Linked DNA regions of Homo sapiens. The protein of the gene in region 2 interacts with the protein of the main gene of each other region in a biochemical or structural test. Each region holds a gene or a part of one and is shown on either strand. Other genes may lie near its edges.

Region 1 (8,861 bases), on a different chromosome or scaffold from region 2:
GAGATCCATTTCACTGTGTCACCCAAGCTGGAGTGTGGGGTGTAATCTCTGCTCACTGCAACATCCACCTCCCTGGTTCAAGTCATCCTCCCACCTCAGCCTCCCGAGTAGCTGGAAATACAGGCATCTGCCACCACACCCAGCTAATTTTTGCATTTTTAGTAGAGACGGGGTTTCACCATGTTGGCCAGGCTGGTCTTGAACTCCTGACCTCAAATGATCTGCTTACCTCAACCTCCCGAAGTGCTGGCATTACAGAGGTAAGCTACCACACCCCAGCCTACTCCAGTTTTCTTAGTCTCATTTTTCTTCGTCTATAATGTTGGAACTATTCAAAAACAAGCTGGGTGCAGTGGTACACACCTGTAGTTCCAGCTACTTGGGAGGCTGATGTGGGAGGATCTTCTGGGCCCGGGAGTTTGAGGCCAGCCTATGCAACATAGCAAGACCCCACCTCTTACAAAAAGAAAAAGAAAAAAAAGGAGAGAGGGAGAGAAAGAGAGAGAGAGAGCACTCTCTACAAATAAGGAGATTGGCATGGGAGTATCACCTACAAGGACATGGCTTCAACCAACCTATATTCATTAATATTCCTATATTCATTAATAACTTAATTCCAGGTTTGCTTGCATTAAATCATGGGAGTCTCACACTGAAATTCTTCCAGTTCATGGAGAGGAAGATGGTGACTGTGGTGAATATGTCTGACATGTAGGACTCCTGTTTAATTGCAGCTGAAGAAGATGCAATAGCATTTGTTTTTCTTCTGCTGATCTCAGAAGGGGAGAAATTTCTTCCTTCCACACAATACATTTTGTTCATGTGACATGTTAGGATATGATTTTATTGTATTGATTTTTAAATCTCATTATAAGTCACTAAACAAGACTCAGGCAGAAAAGGTGAGCCTGAGAGACTGTGATTGTGAAGCAATGAATGTGAGCTCTGGCATTGACTCAGTAGTTTCTTAAATGTGTATTTGAATTAATCACGTGACCTTTTGGTTTTCTCACTTACCAAATGCTGGAGTTGAAGTACAGGATCTTACAGTTTCTTCTGAGACTAGAACTCTCATTCTGTGTTTCACTGAGGTCAATAGTAATAGGAATTAATACTATTAGTAATTTTCTTCAATATAATAGTAATTTTTTTCTATTATTCCTGGGCTTTTTACCTGAGATTTTGATTACTAAGGAAAAAAATGTTTTAAGGAAATTAGAGAGGAAGTTACTGACTTTAGGAAAAGTGGTGATTTTCCTGACCAAGCTGTGGCTGTGTAATACATTTGTATATACAGAATAGTCTCTTCAAAAGCACCTTGTGTGCCTGTGTTTGCTGTGGTTATATTTGATTTTGATTTCCAGGATAAATTTTAGTTCCTTATTTACATGTTAAGGGTGAGTAAATGAGGAATGGCCAATCACTTTAGTTTACAAAACATATTGCTAGGATCGGAGCGCAGACTTGGCCACAGTCCTGAATGATTTTAACGTAGCTTCAAGCCTGAGCAAGTTATTATCTCTGGGCTGAAGGTTGGCTAGAAAGGCAATCATGTTTTTTGATTTTGTATGATGAATCTTTGTAACCAAAGGCTAATAGAAACTATGTGTCATTGCCTTTCATTTGTTCTTAACAGAGGACATGGATTTCAAGCTTATTGGATTTAAGCATTTGCTGATTCACCTTTAAATCATTTCTCTTTTTTGTGTCTTTTTTTTTTTTTCCTACAGGATGTTTTCACTCCAGAATGCAAATTCAAGGAATCTGTGTTTGAAAACTACTATGTGATCTATTCTTCCACACTGTACCGCCAGCAAGAATCAGGCCGAGCTTGGTTTCTGGGACTCAATAAAGAAGGTCAAATTATGAAGGGGAACAGAGTGAAGAAAACCAAGCCCTCATCACATTTTGTACCGAAACCTATTGAAGGTATGAAACCAACTGACTGTCTTTGTTGGACCCTTATCTGTGTGTTGACATCAATTCTGCTTCTTGCCCTTTTGGTCCAGAGAGTTTGCCTGGAATGCAACAGATCAGAAGAAAGATTCAAAAGAAATATTCAGAGAACACAATAGTATCTCTTCCTTTTTTTTTTTTTTTTTCTTTTGAGGCAGAGTCTTGCTCTGTCGCCCACACTAGAATGCAATGGCTCAGTCTCGGCTCACTGCAACCTCCTCCCGGATTCGAGCAATTCTCCTGCCTCAGCCTCCGTAGTAGCTGGGAATCTTTTCCTATTAAAAAAAAAAAAAAGGAAAATTCTATTACAAATACTTGGCACTTAAAAAAAATGCCTGAATATAGAAGCCGGAAAAATTTTGAAAGTAGAAAAGAAGTGGTAGTTACTATCTAGTATGCAGTTTCCTCCTTTTCTAAACCTAATAATTTCCTTTCTCAAGATACACCCTTGAAAAACAAATGATACTTTTATATTTACCGTATTGCACTGTATCCTTCTCAGGTGAGCCTATAACCTTTTCTCTCGTAATCATTTAATTCTCTGTTCATTTATTTCAAACTGACCATTAGAATAAACTTTTTTGTTTTTTTTTTTCTGAGGAAACCGATTTTTGGCAGCTAGGCTATGTTCCCTCAGAAATTCCTTAGCTAGGATGAGAGCATATCATTTGGGTAACCACATTTCCTGAATTCAGCCAAGCTTTCTACTACAGGCTGAGTAAGCTTGTTTCTCCTCTGAAAGTCACATTATAATCACTTTAAACATTGGCTCAGCATCCTCGTCTGAGGAAATGAGAAAATTGAGGCAGTGCATTGCAACTCTGTGGCTTAGTCAAGCTTGCTGTCCCCTGAATATCTCATATGGCATGGTCAGTCAATCAGTGTACACAATGCCTGGTGCATAGTACATAGCACGGTGACTGCAAACATTTAAGTCAATACTATCTTCCAATGTTCCAAGCACTGGATGAAATGTGATATTCAAAGCCCCTAGCCCCTCTCAGGACCCTCTTCACATGCTGTGTATTCAGCACATGAAATGAACTTTTCTTTCCTGCAGTATATTTTCACTTTATTTATTTATTTATTTGAGATGGAGTCTTGCTCTGTCACCCAGGCTGGAGTGCGGTGGTGCAATCTCGGCTCACTGCAGCCTCTGCCCCCTGGGTTCCAGCGATTCTCCTTCTTCAGCCTCCTGGGTAGCTGGGATTACAGGCACACACCACCACACCCGGCTAATTTTTGTATTTTTAGTAGAGACAGGATTTCGCCATGTTGGCCAGGCTGGTCTCAAACTCCTGACCTCAGGTTATCTGCCCACCTCGGCCTCCCAAAGTGCTGGGATTACAAGCGTGAGCCACCATGCCTGGCCTATTTTCATTCTTATTGGGCTCATTTTGTTCATCACCCCTGCTCCTTTAGTTTTTATCCATTTATCTCATCTGCCTGGAAAATGTCTATTAGTCTTTGGAAAAAAATAATTCAAGAGTCAATACTTCCATGATGGCCTTCTTGACTTTCTTCAAGTAGAACTAAACATTCGGTCAGCTTGTCATTGCATACATTTCTCTCCCATAGAAATTATGACATTAAATTTGCCCAATGCCACTCTGTCTCCTCTTATTCATGGTTAGCTCACTCTTTGAATGAACAGAACATGTTTTATTTTTCTTCATATCTCCCTTTGTCTTCTATAATAGTTGGCATATCATAGAGAGATATTTGATAATCAGTTGTCTGAAAAGTGAACATGTGAATGAATTAATGAATAGAAAACTATAAAGACAAAGAAGAATATATGCGCCAGAGAACTTTATGATATTCTTAGAGGTGTGACATATGTTTACTCAGAGCAAAAGTAAAATGTTAAGTGATGCAATATATAGGATTTATATTGGGACTCAGAGAAAAAGGCTATTATTTTCCCAAAAAGTAAGATATCATTGAGAAGCTAATATTTAAACTTACCTTCAGGGCTAGGCCAGGTTCCTGCAATTTGAGATGAGAGGTAGGGATTAGGCAGACAAAAACATTCCAGGTGCAGTGTGAATAAAGGCAGGAAAGTGCCTGCTTCTTAGGGTTAAGCAAAGGGTACCTGAGAAGTAAGTAATATTTTCACAGGGAAATATATGGATTCTCAAAAATGAAATGTTTGATGAATTATGCTCTTAATTATTGCATCATTTTTATTTGTTCATTTACATTGATTTTCTTCTTGTTATAAAAGTAGTACAAGGTCATTAACAATTTTGGAAAATTTAGGAAAGTATGAAGAAAAGAAATCCACGTGTTGTGTTTATTCCCTTTACGGATAATGCCCTTTATATTCAACTTCACCCTCATGACCCCACTTAAAAATACACCTAGGCCAGGCTTGGTGGCTCACGCCTGTAATCCCAGGACTTTGGGAGACCGAGGTGGGCGGATCACGAGGTCAGGAGTTTGAGATCAGCCTGACCAACATGGTGAAACCCCGTCTCTACTAAAAATACAAAAATTAACCGGGCGTGGTGGCACGTGCCGGTAATCCCAGCTACTCAGGAGACTGAGGCAGGAGAATCAAGGAGGTGGAGATTGCAGTGAGCTGAGATCACGCCACTGCACTCCAGCCTGGGTGATAAAGCAAGATTCTTTCTCAAAAAAAAAAAAAAAAAAAAATTTTATATATATATATATATATATATATATATATATATATACCTATAACCTACCCTCCTAATTTTAGCTGCTATCTGTACTTTGGTTAATCAAGTTTCCTCTTGGGTCTGGATGAGCATGTACGTGTACAACTGGACATTCCTATATGGATTAGAATTAAGGTTGTCTTCACACAACACAAACTCATATTAACAGCAGCTTAATCATATAAAGTTTTTTATTCTCTCACAAAACAAATCTAGAGACCAGCTATCCTAGCTGGTACTGTGCTTTTCCAATTGGTAGGGCCTTGGCTGCATCCAGCTTTTACTACCTCTCTCCCAGTGTTTTGCTACGGCTTATTTACAACTGTGCACTGCACCCGGAACACAACCACACATGCTGGCCCTGGATCTGCCCTTCTGCCCATGATCCAACCAGCATCTTATTCCAGCCAGAGGGCAGAGGAGAGGTGAAGAAGACAGAAGGAAAAGCCAGGGCCAGTTTTCTTTCCAAGTTGTCCATGGTAACTGCCATATGCTACTTATCGCACTGGCCACAACCTAGTCAGGTAGTCACACTTAGGTGTAAAGAAGCTAAGAATGTAGTCTTTTTTTTTTTTTTTTTTTTGATAGCCATATACCAAATAAATGTTCTGTGACTAGGGGTTATGGCACAATGGGTATTGAGACACTAAAAACTCTGCTTCAGGCTTCCATCCTCTTAATTTTAGAATATCTCTGATTTCCTAATTTTCTGATTGACATCTTTTGGTAGATTATCGTGTTTTTACTTTATGTTATTGACTGATCCTTTAGAATGATTTTCTTTTTGTTCTGGGAAAAAAAATGCATTCTAAATCAGATTCACTAATACTTTGATTCACTTCCAAGGATTTTTGTCTCTCTAGGTGTGAAGCATATAGAATATGATGATAATTACTTCCAAAAATGAAAAAAAAAACTTAATTGGTTTTAGGCCAAACACCTTCTCATTCCCTATAAATGTCTTTATCTTTTGTCTTAGGGAACTAACTTTATTGAACAATCTTAGCTAACAGTTTTATAAATGCTTACTCTGTGCAGGTGCTATTCTAAGCACGTCTCAATTACTGTCTCTTACTTTCCATTCCATTTGTACGAAGTAGGTTCCAGTATTATCCGCATTTACAAATGTGAAAAATGAAACACAGAGATATTGAGTAATTTGTCCTAAATCATGCAGCTAGCAATTGGCAAAGCCAGAAATGAAACCAAAGCATTCTGACTTGAACAATCAAGTTCTTAAACCCCATTTAAAACTGGTAAGACAGGCTACAGTCTGAGGTCTGAGAAAGATGTAGATGTAACTTCAATATAGTGGGACCTAGTAAATGATCTTGAATAAATGTCTCCTAATTGCTTCTCTTTTTAAAAATCTGCAATATATCCCTACCCCTTAGAAATAAAAGTTCTTGCAGATTAATGGAGATCATCACACTCTTGTAACTGACATGAAACACATGAAATTGGTTGGTTCTCTTCTGCCTCCTATGTGCTTTGATGTCCTTATAATACAGAAAATGTGAACAATTACCTTATGATTCTCCATGCAGTTATACATTATATCCTTAAATGATTTTAACAGGTTACCATTACTATCAAAGATATGTACACTTGAGGTTGTGTCAGGCATTAATCCACTGGACATTGAAACCTTTCTCCTCGCTGCTGGGATACTCAAATTATTTTTGCTGCCACCATTACTGCTATTACTAGTCTTACTACTTCTGTATGCAGTTTATCAATTTACTATTTGCTAGCCAGGTTGCGTATGTTATCTCTGTTAAGCCTCACAATAGTTCTGTATTTTTATCCTCATTTTATAGATGAGGAAACGTAATTTAAAGTAACTAAGTAACCAGTCCAAGACCACAGGGCTAGATAAATACAGAACTGGGGTTGCAGTCCAGGAACCCTGATGTCACGTAACCTCTGTACTATGTTGCCCTTCAATCTGAAGTAAGCCTGTGAATATGCAAATACTCAGAAAAGTCAGTGATAGCAAAGCAGAAACCTTATACTATGATGCAATTTGAATAGTAAACTAGTTTTAAATCATGCAAAATTGAGACAGGAATACATGATATGATGAGAAACACATTGGTAAACAATCAGATAAAACAGTTAATGGAATGCCATGTTCAAGCTAGGCAAGAAAGAATTAACAATGCATCACTTCTTTTCTGGTGAATTCTAACAAGGTTTATTTCCACTCAGCAAAAAAAAAAAAAAAAATTGGACCAGATGATTTCTAAAGTTCTTTGGCAATGACATTGTGTGGCAGTCGTTATAAGCCCTTCACTGTAAAACCATGTTCCTTCATAGAACCTAGCCTAGAATTTACATGTAAAACTGGTCTAAACATATTTTCTTTATTGAATTATTGAAAAAATAAATTACAGCTTTATGAGCTATTTCCATTATTTGTGATTTTTTTTTTTAATGAAGGGATAGGATGAAAGGCATCCTAGCCATAACTTACATTTAAATAGATTTTAGGACAGACGCAGTGGCTCATACCTGTATTCCCAGCAATTTGGGAAGTCGAGGCAGGTGAATCACTTGAGGCCAGGAGTTCAAGACCAGCCTGGCCGACATGATGAAACGTCATCACTACTAAAAAATATGAAAATTAGCCAGGTGTGGTGGTACACACCTGTAATCCCCGCTACTTGGGAGGCTGAGGCAGGAGAATCACTTTCAACCCAGGGAGTCGGAGTTTGCCAGGAGCTGAGATTGCACCACTACACTCCAGCCTGGTCAACAGAGAAAGATTCTGTCCCAAAAATAAGTGAATAAATAAATAAATAAAGTTTTCGATAATATTTTTCCATAGGGCAGGTATAAAGCACATAACTAGATGACACTTTTAGAAAACGATTAGAAAATGATAGCATAAGAGATTAGCTAACTTGCTGCTAATGGGTTAACCAAAAAAATTATTGACTATTTTGTTTGTAATGTTTAAAGGCATCTTTGTAACCCTGTAAGTCCAATGGTAATACTGTTAACATCCTAACAGAGTCCAGCACTGCACGGTAAATGAGCCCTTCCTTTGTGAAGGGAATTGTCCTCTTAGGGAGGAAAAGCCAAAGTAGGGTTTTTTTTGGCTTTGGGTTTTGCTTTTGTTCTTTTGTTTTTTCCTGCTTATTTGTTTTTCACATATGTCTGCCTTTATCCCAGTCCTGCTGGTGTTGTCTTTTGAATGTCACGATTCCCAAAATTAAGCTCTGCCAGTTTGAGGATGGTTAAGTCCTACACTGATAACATGATAATAATTACCCACCAGCCCATTTCCCTTCACTCTTTCACGTCTCATCCTGTGTTTAGAGAACAGGAGCGTTGATGAGGGGTTTCAGGGTCACCTATTCTGATAGATGGCCTTGATGTTTAAGCACATTACTATGTACATTGCATATAAACCTCTACTTACATGGGTCCCCTCCCCTGGAATTTTGGACAATAGCACAGGCTTCCTGATTCTCAATTCTGCCCTTTCAGAGTATTGTTCAAAGCACAGATAAGTAACTTCCCCAGATGTAAAGTGTTTTAGTGGTGACCTCCCCCTTTAGCATCAGATATAGCAGTCAAATACTCTTTGACAAAGAACAAAATATAGTCTCCTCCTTTTCTCCTCCCTCCTCCTTCAAGAAGCACATTGCTCAGCTACTGCAGGTGGCTGAGTATTTAGGATCTGGTTCTTCCCTTCTGAAAAAAAAAGTCTGTGTACTTTGCAAAGATTTAAGCTTCAAGAGCTGAGACCTGGAGAAATAAATATATTTCCAAATAAGATAACTAAGAATCATTTGAGAGCCATCCATACAGAAGTATTAAACTTGGAATAAAGGAATATTGATTTATTTCTCCCAATTTATTTGGTAGTGGGGAGACAGTACTAACACACACACACACACACACACACACTCACACACACTTGGCCATATACATGGTTTCCATTTTCTTTGTTAGAATTGGTGCTTTAAGCTCATAGAATCTGATTTAAGACTCAGCAGAATGTAAACTGTCATTTCCCAAACATCAGTACCAGAACCATCTGTAGTGTTCCTAGAAGCTAACAGATTCTCAGAGCAAATCTCCAAAGTGATCTGATGTTTGAAACCTATGTATGACCTAGGACTCTATAGGTTTAAAACGCTGTCCAGGGGATTTCTGATGGCATTGAGTTTGAGATGCAGTGTTCTGAATTTGGTGTTTCTAAGCTCCTTT
Region 2 (7,000 bases):
TTGAAAATGCAAATTATCAACAAAAATTATTTTGTAAAATATTATTAGAAATGCTGCACCATATTTTAATGATGACACCAAGTAGCTAATAAGACTATATGCAGTCAAAAGTTGGGAAATAGATTAGTTACTTATTTGTCAAACTTTTATTTTGAAATACCAAATCTTTCTGACTAGGCAATATCATAGCATAGTATCAGAGTAAAAAGGCAGCAGAACGACTTGTAATACTTTCTTTTACCCCACTTGCAGCCAATGTCCAGAGGGATATATGTGTGTGAAAGCTGGTAGAAATCCCAATTATGGCTACACAAGCTTTGATACCTTCAGTTGGGCTTTTTTGTCCTTGTTTCGACTAATGACTCAGGACTTCTGGGAAAATCTTTATCAACTGGTGAGAACTAAAGAGCCACACTCTCCATTTAAGTAAAAGTATACAAGAAAACCAATTGAGTTATGAAATTAAAACCGGATGATAATATAGTAGAAAGAGCAGAACTTGAAACGAGACTTGAGTTCCTCTATCCTATTGATTATAACACATACTGAGCAGAGTGATGCCAAGGATTGCAATTCTCTCCCATTTCTTCTTGGCTCAAAACCTGTTCCCTACCCTTCTCAGACACAGATTGTCCTAAACAGAAGGCACATTCTCCCTTCAGCCCTATCTACCCCCTCAAATATTATCCCTCAGGTGGGAAGTAATGAAAATGAAAAAGCAGATATAGAAAGATAACTTTGGTCTGTTCCTTGACTTTCCTAAAGGCTCAGGTCGTTAATGGAGGACTCCATGGCATTTTATTGACTGTTTCATTCTTGGTGAATACAAAAATTCTGCCATAGAAATCATAGTGTGAATGCATAAGCTAGAAGAGAAGGAAGAAGCTGAAGTTAAAGAAACAATAAAAAAAAAGTACAGGGTGCTATGACCAACATAATTACTATTTATATCTGAGTTTTGCTAGACACATGAGTAAATTGAAAGTTGAAGCCACCACTTAGTGAAATAATATTGAGAAATAATTCTGATATTTTTGTTTGCAGACATTACGTGCTGCTGGGAAAACGTACATGATATTTTTTGTATTGGTCATTTTCTTGGGCTCATTCTACCTAATAAATTTGATCCTGGCTGTGGTGGCCATGGCCTACGAGGAACAGAATCAGGCCACCTTGGAAGAAGCAGAACAGAAAGAGGCCGAATTTCAGCAGATGATTGAACAGCTTAAAAAGCAACAGGAGGCAGCTCAGGTAAAGCTGCCCTGTCTCATGGCACTGACCTTTTATCGTTCTGATTGTTACGTAATATTGAAGAGAAAGTGAGTACCTAAGAGCAGGTGGTTGTATGAGGAATTAATAATGATTTCTATATTTTGATGATCCACTTACTTTTATTTAGTTTAATTATTTTATTTGAGATGTGTATAATAATAACCACAATAGAACTCTCTCATGCTATTTTAATCATCTTAAGATTCTCAAAGTAAAGGGAAAATGTTATTTTGGGGTATTTTCAAGTGAGAGACTTTTATTCAATGAGTAGACTGGCATTAGGAGGAAATCATCTTTTCTTAGAACAAGAAATTATTGGTTATCATATGAAGAGTTGCTCCTCTAGTTCTTAAACATAGTCTCCTTTTTTCTTTAACTAAAAATATGTTGGCTTTTAACGTGGTTGCTTTATTACCTTTATAAGGAAGTGATCAAATAATATAATGATCTCTGATACAGCAGCATCCAATAGACATATGAATGTTACCAATCTTACACAGATTGACCATCTAAAAAGGATTACTTGTTTTTATAGTGAAGTGTTAGTCCTCACAGTGTGATAAATCATAAAATGCCTCTCCTATCTCTCTCATCTTTCTGTTTAGCATACAAACTTATTGTCTTTACTAAAGAAGAAAGTTGTTTCAGAAATATTAATTTATATGCAAGAGTAATTAATTTATCGAGGTTACCCTGGGAACAATGATAATAATAAAAAAGTGTCAACTTAGTACCAGTACAAGCTATAATCAAAAAGCATTGTTTTATTCCATGCCCATGTGCCCCTTAAGAACCAGTACTGATTTGAAGATGGTGGGGACAGTTTTTGGAGAACTGGATGTCTTATCTTGCTCAGCAGAAACTATTGATTCTCCCTTCCCCATTCTTCTGGATATTGTGGATGGGTGAGAAAGGGATTTTATAACTGTCCATAAATAGGATTAATAATATTTTGAGGGTATTGGACAATCCAATTTCAATAACTAGAGAAAGGACCTCAGGTCCTTATCCCATTCCCCTGCCTTAAACTCATCAGCTTTTCTTCCATACTCGAGTTTCTTTTTCGGAGAAAAGAAAACAACACTAATTAAATACCAATTTTTAAAGTAAATCAAATCCCAAAAAGTAATGAATTTATTTTCTTGTTGATACATGTTGGATATTTTTGAATACGTGGTCTGTGGAGCATTAACAGAGACATAATAAATGTTACCATGGAGCAAACTAAATTATCTCCAAAAGCCTTCATTAGGTAGAAAGAAAAAAAAAATCTCCTCTTATACTTGCAGAGAATCTTCTCTGTGAGATGATCTTCAGTCAGTTCAATATATTTTTTAAAAGCCATGCAAATACTTCAGCCCTTTCAAAGAAAGATACAGTCTCTTCAGGTGCTATGTTAAAATCATTTCTCTTCAATATAGCAGGCAGCAACGGCAACTGCCTCAGAACATTCCAGAGAGCCCAGTGCAGCAGGCAGGCTCTCAGACAGCTCATCTGAAGCCTCTAAGTTGAGTTCCAAGAGTGCTAAGGAAAGAAGAAATCGGAGGAAGAAAAGAAAACAGAAAGAGCAGTCTGGTGGGGAAGAGAAAGATGAGGATGAATTCCAAAAATCTGAATCTGAGGACAGCATCAGGAGGAAAGGTTTTCGCTTCTCCATTGAAGGGAACCGATTGACATATGAAAAGAGGTACTCCTCCCCACACCAGGTATGGCACTGCTGAGTTTACTGATGCATGGTTGAAAATTAAAACATGGGAGAGAGGGGGAGAATTAGAAAATGGACTCAGGAATTTTTATCAACTGAATCAACCACTGTTGTGTTATATTTAAACCCATCCCTTCTTCACATAGTTATGCAAAAACTTTACTCCACAGATATGTAAGTCTACAGCTCGGTGTAGTTAAGATAACACCAAGTTGACAGTCAGGAGAACTGGACTGTCATTCTGATACTGTCTGCTGATATTTGTCTATAACTAATGACATTTAATCTTTTTGATCCTCAGCACTTTTAAGAAAAAAAAAAATGTGGAACTCCGGATAGTCGATCAGGAATGTCCTTAGGTTATTTTATGATTTTATGTTTTTTTTCCCCCTAACTTCTTTATAAGTCACCATGCATGCTTCTGAAAATATTAGTCATGGTACACTTGATCAAAAGGCACATGACTCTGAATTTCAGAAGTATGAACTTCAAGTTCCAACAATACAATGCCTTATAGGTGAAAAAGAAATAATAATTAAAGTGATTTTAGAAAGGTGGACTAAAGTAAATTGTGAGGAGTGTTGAAAGTTTTTGAAAGACAAGATCCATAAAAACCAAGGTGGCCTTGTTAAGGTCATGGTGCCAGTGTTCACTGAATGTTTACCACGTCCATTGCCATATTCTAAGGATGTTTCCCTTTGAACTTGAGAAATGGTCGTTCAGGGTGTGTGTGTATGTGTGTGTGTGTGTGTTTCAATATGTTAAGGTTGCAATCTATCTCCTCATTCTTTAATCCCAAGGGCTAGAAACTTTCTTTTATCAAGGTAATTTAATTTAATGTGAATGCACATAAAATGAGAATGATAATCAAAAGGAATGAACCATATTCTGTTATGAATGCTGAAATCTCCTTCTACATAATCTTGCAAAATGAAATCACATTCAAATGTCCATATTAATATGACTTTATTTGTTTGCTCTTTCAAACTTCTAGTCTTTGTTGAGCATCCGTGGCTCCCTATTTTCACCAAGGCGAAATAGCAGAACAAGCCTTTTCAGCTTTAGAGGGCGAGCAAAGGATGTGGGATCTGAGAACGACTTCGCAGATGATGAGCACAGCACCTTTGAGGATAACGAGAGCCGTAGAGATTCCTTGTTTGTGCCCCGACGACACGGAGAGAGACGCAACAGCAACCTGAGTCAGACCAGTAGGTCATCCCGGATGCTGGCAGTGTTTCCAGCGAATGGGAAGATGCACAGCACTGTGGATTGCAATGGTGTGGTTTCCTTGGTTGGTGGACCTTCAGTTCCTACATCGCCTGTTGGACAGCTTCTGCCAGAGGTGATAATAGATAAGCCAGCTACTGATGACAATGTAAGGAAGTTTTAAATAGTTCAGGCATGGCTGGCTCACTATTGCTGCACCAGCCAGTGTTTCTACAGAACGGCAACCTTGAGAATGATTCCTGGTTGGTCACGCTGTGAATGCACCTGCATCTTGTAATATCTTTAATAGACTAACCAACTAAAACTTAAAACCTTAGCAGTCTCCTGCACAAACCTGAATGCATTTACTTATTAAAAGTGCTAAGGATTGATTAGACACAATAATTACTGCCTCCAGTTGGAGGATTTGCTATATACCCACACTGAATTTAGATAGCAGGACATTCTCCAAGGCTCTGGTATGAAAGTAAATGAATGATTCTATGTTTAAGTGTCAAGGGTATGTAATAAATCTTTCCAATGGATTCTTCAAGATCTCTGCTTTAGTTTAGATTTTCAAAAACACTGCTTAAGTAGATAGCTTCATTGTTACCTTAATACTCCTAGTACTCATATTTTTCTTACTAAAAAATGCTGATATAGGTCTTCTCAAAATTAAATGAAGAGACACAAATACATTATTAATACAGACAGATAAAATAATTGTCTGTGTACAAAGGTATGTTATGTGTTTGTGGATGTATACTCAGATGAGGAATTTCTAAACAGATGCTGCCTCTTCTTAGACTGTTTACTCACTTGGAAATATATCAGCATGAGGAGGCATGACTAAGTCAGAATTAGATGACTTATTGCTTTGGTACCCTGGATGAAACTGTTGTCCATGCAGCATGTGTGTGTTCTTTTTAACATAGAGTTTGTGTTGTCAATGACCATCTACATCTTGTGTCCAGAAAATAAGATGGCAGCTAAGTGTGTTGCAATCATTTATACTTCCTTAAAATTAAATAGCTACCTTCTCAAAAATCAAGTGCCTTGATCACTTGTAGGACTTTTAAGTTACTAGGCTTTTACTATTAGTTCAGAAATAAGGGTAATAACTGTTAAATATATCTCTTAAGAGTTTTATCAACTATATTAAAATTATTTTGTATTTTATAAAATTATGAAATCAGGAAGTTAACATCTTGGTTTTTGCTGTATGACTAAATGGTTAACAGTTTGAACATTCCAGGCTAATGATACAATAAGTCAGAAATATCTGCCATCACCAATTGAATATGAAAGTGCATGATGCATGTGTTTCATGAAATTCACTGTGTCACCATTTGGTTGTTTGCTTGTCATATTGCTCAAATTAATTGTTTAATGCATTAGCATTTTTTTTTACAGGGAACAACCACTGAAACTGAAATGAGAAAGAGAAGGTCAAGTTCTTTCCACGTTTCCATGGACTTTCTAGAAGATCCTTCCCAAAGGCAACGAGCAATGAGTATAGCCAGCATTCTAACAAATACAGTAGAAGGTTGGTAACAAATTCTATTTTCGTTTCAATTATTTTCACCAAACTTATATTGTCTCATTTCAAACAAATATATTTGTGAGTTGGGAATAGTGCATTCTAATGAAAAGACAGTCTAATTCAAGAGCTGTTATTTCTTATATCTACTCAGATATTCTAGAAGCCTTAACAATTTATTTTAAAATGAGTGATATTGGGACTAAGAATGTTTTCCTAACTGTGTAGCAACTCTTTGAAAATGCAGAACAAAGCATTTCTGTTAGGGGTTTCTAATCTCATTAGTCATAGTGACCCTCTTTTTGTTCCATTAGTTTAAGACTTCAGCAGTACAGCCCTTTTCAGCCTCATCCTAAGTACTCTCAAGATTGTAGAGGAAGAGCAGGTCATTTTCACAAAATAAAAACAAGCTAAAAAGATGATTCTTGGGTCACATCAATCCCTATTCTAGCTCTCATAGTCTGAGGTTGACAATGTAGAGTCATTCACATAGGGTTGCACACACAATATCTACACCACCCTAAACCATGTTCCCATTGAGACGTCACATGAAAGACCACTCATTTAACTTGAGGCCAAGTGCTGAGCCACAATGTCAGTGCATAAGACAAAAAACTACCCATTGTTACCTGGGCTCTATGTGTGTGTCTGATGAAATATCCTTGGGAGGTTTAGAGTAAACTGTAATTTTTTTAACAAGTACAAAAAAGGTTGTCTCTGTAACAAAAATGTGTTGATTACTGAAAATAAGTTTAGTGGATATGAAATAAATGTGTGTGTATAAAGTATACCTTTTGGTGGTTCTTTTTTTTTTTTTTCTTAATCTAGAACTTGAAGAATCCAGGCAGAAATGCCCACCCTGTTGGTATAAATTTTCCAACATATTCTTAATCTGGGACTGTTCTCCATATTGGTTAAAAGTGAAACATGTTGTCAACCTGGTTGTGATGGACCCATTTGTTGACCTGGCCATCACCATCTGTATTGTCTTAAATACTCTTTTCATGGCCATGGAGCACTATCCAATGACGGACCATTTCAATAATGTGCTTACAGTAGGAAACTTGGTAAGCATATTGGAAGGTAAATGTGTTTAGTCTTCAAATTTTCTGCTTGAAAAACTGTTTACATTTAATTGTGTATAGCAGTCTTTCAACCATCCTTCATGCTTCCTGGCCCCTGCAAAATCGCAATTATATTTAGCTGGCTATACTCTACTTTTTTGCCAAAAATAATCACCCTTAATGTGCTCACAAAAACTGAGAAAGGCATAGGCC

What was found.
Region 1: the proteins of SCN1A (region 2) and FGF12 interact in a biophysical measurement, tested with the Homo sapiens proteins (one study listed by IntAct).

The regions. Positions count from the first base shown.
Region 1 is NC_000003.12:192,163,526-192,172,386, reverse strand, and holds part of FGF12 (fibroblast growth factor 12), read left to right. Parts: intron 1-1,730; coding exon 1,731-1,929; intron 1,930-8,861. UniProt on the Homo sapiens protein: Involved in nervous system development and function. Involved in the positive regulation of voltage-gated sodium channel activity. Promotes neuronal excitability by elevating the voltage dependence of neuronal sodium channel SCN8A fast inactivation.
Region 2 is NC_000002.12:166,041,021-166,048,020, reverse strand, and holds part of SCN1A (sodium channel protein type 1 subunit alpha), read left to right. Parts: intron 1-252; coding exon 253-394; intron 395-1,044; coding exon 1,045-1,251; intron 1,252-2,693; coding exon 2,694-2,978; intron 2,979-3,971; coding exon 3,972-4,352; intron 4,353-5,596; coding exon 5,597-5,729; intron 5,730-6,551; coding exon 6,552-6,790; exon of another isoform or gene 6,791-6,806; intron 6,807-7,000. UniProt on the Homo sapiens protein: Pore-forming subunit of Nav1.1, a voltage-gated sodium (Nav) channel that directly mediates the depolarizing phase of action potentials in excitable membranes.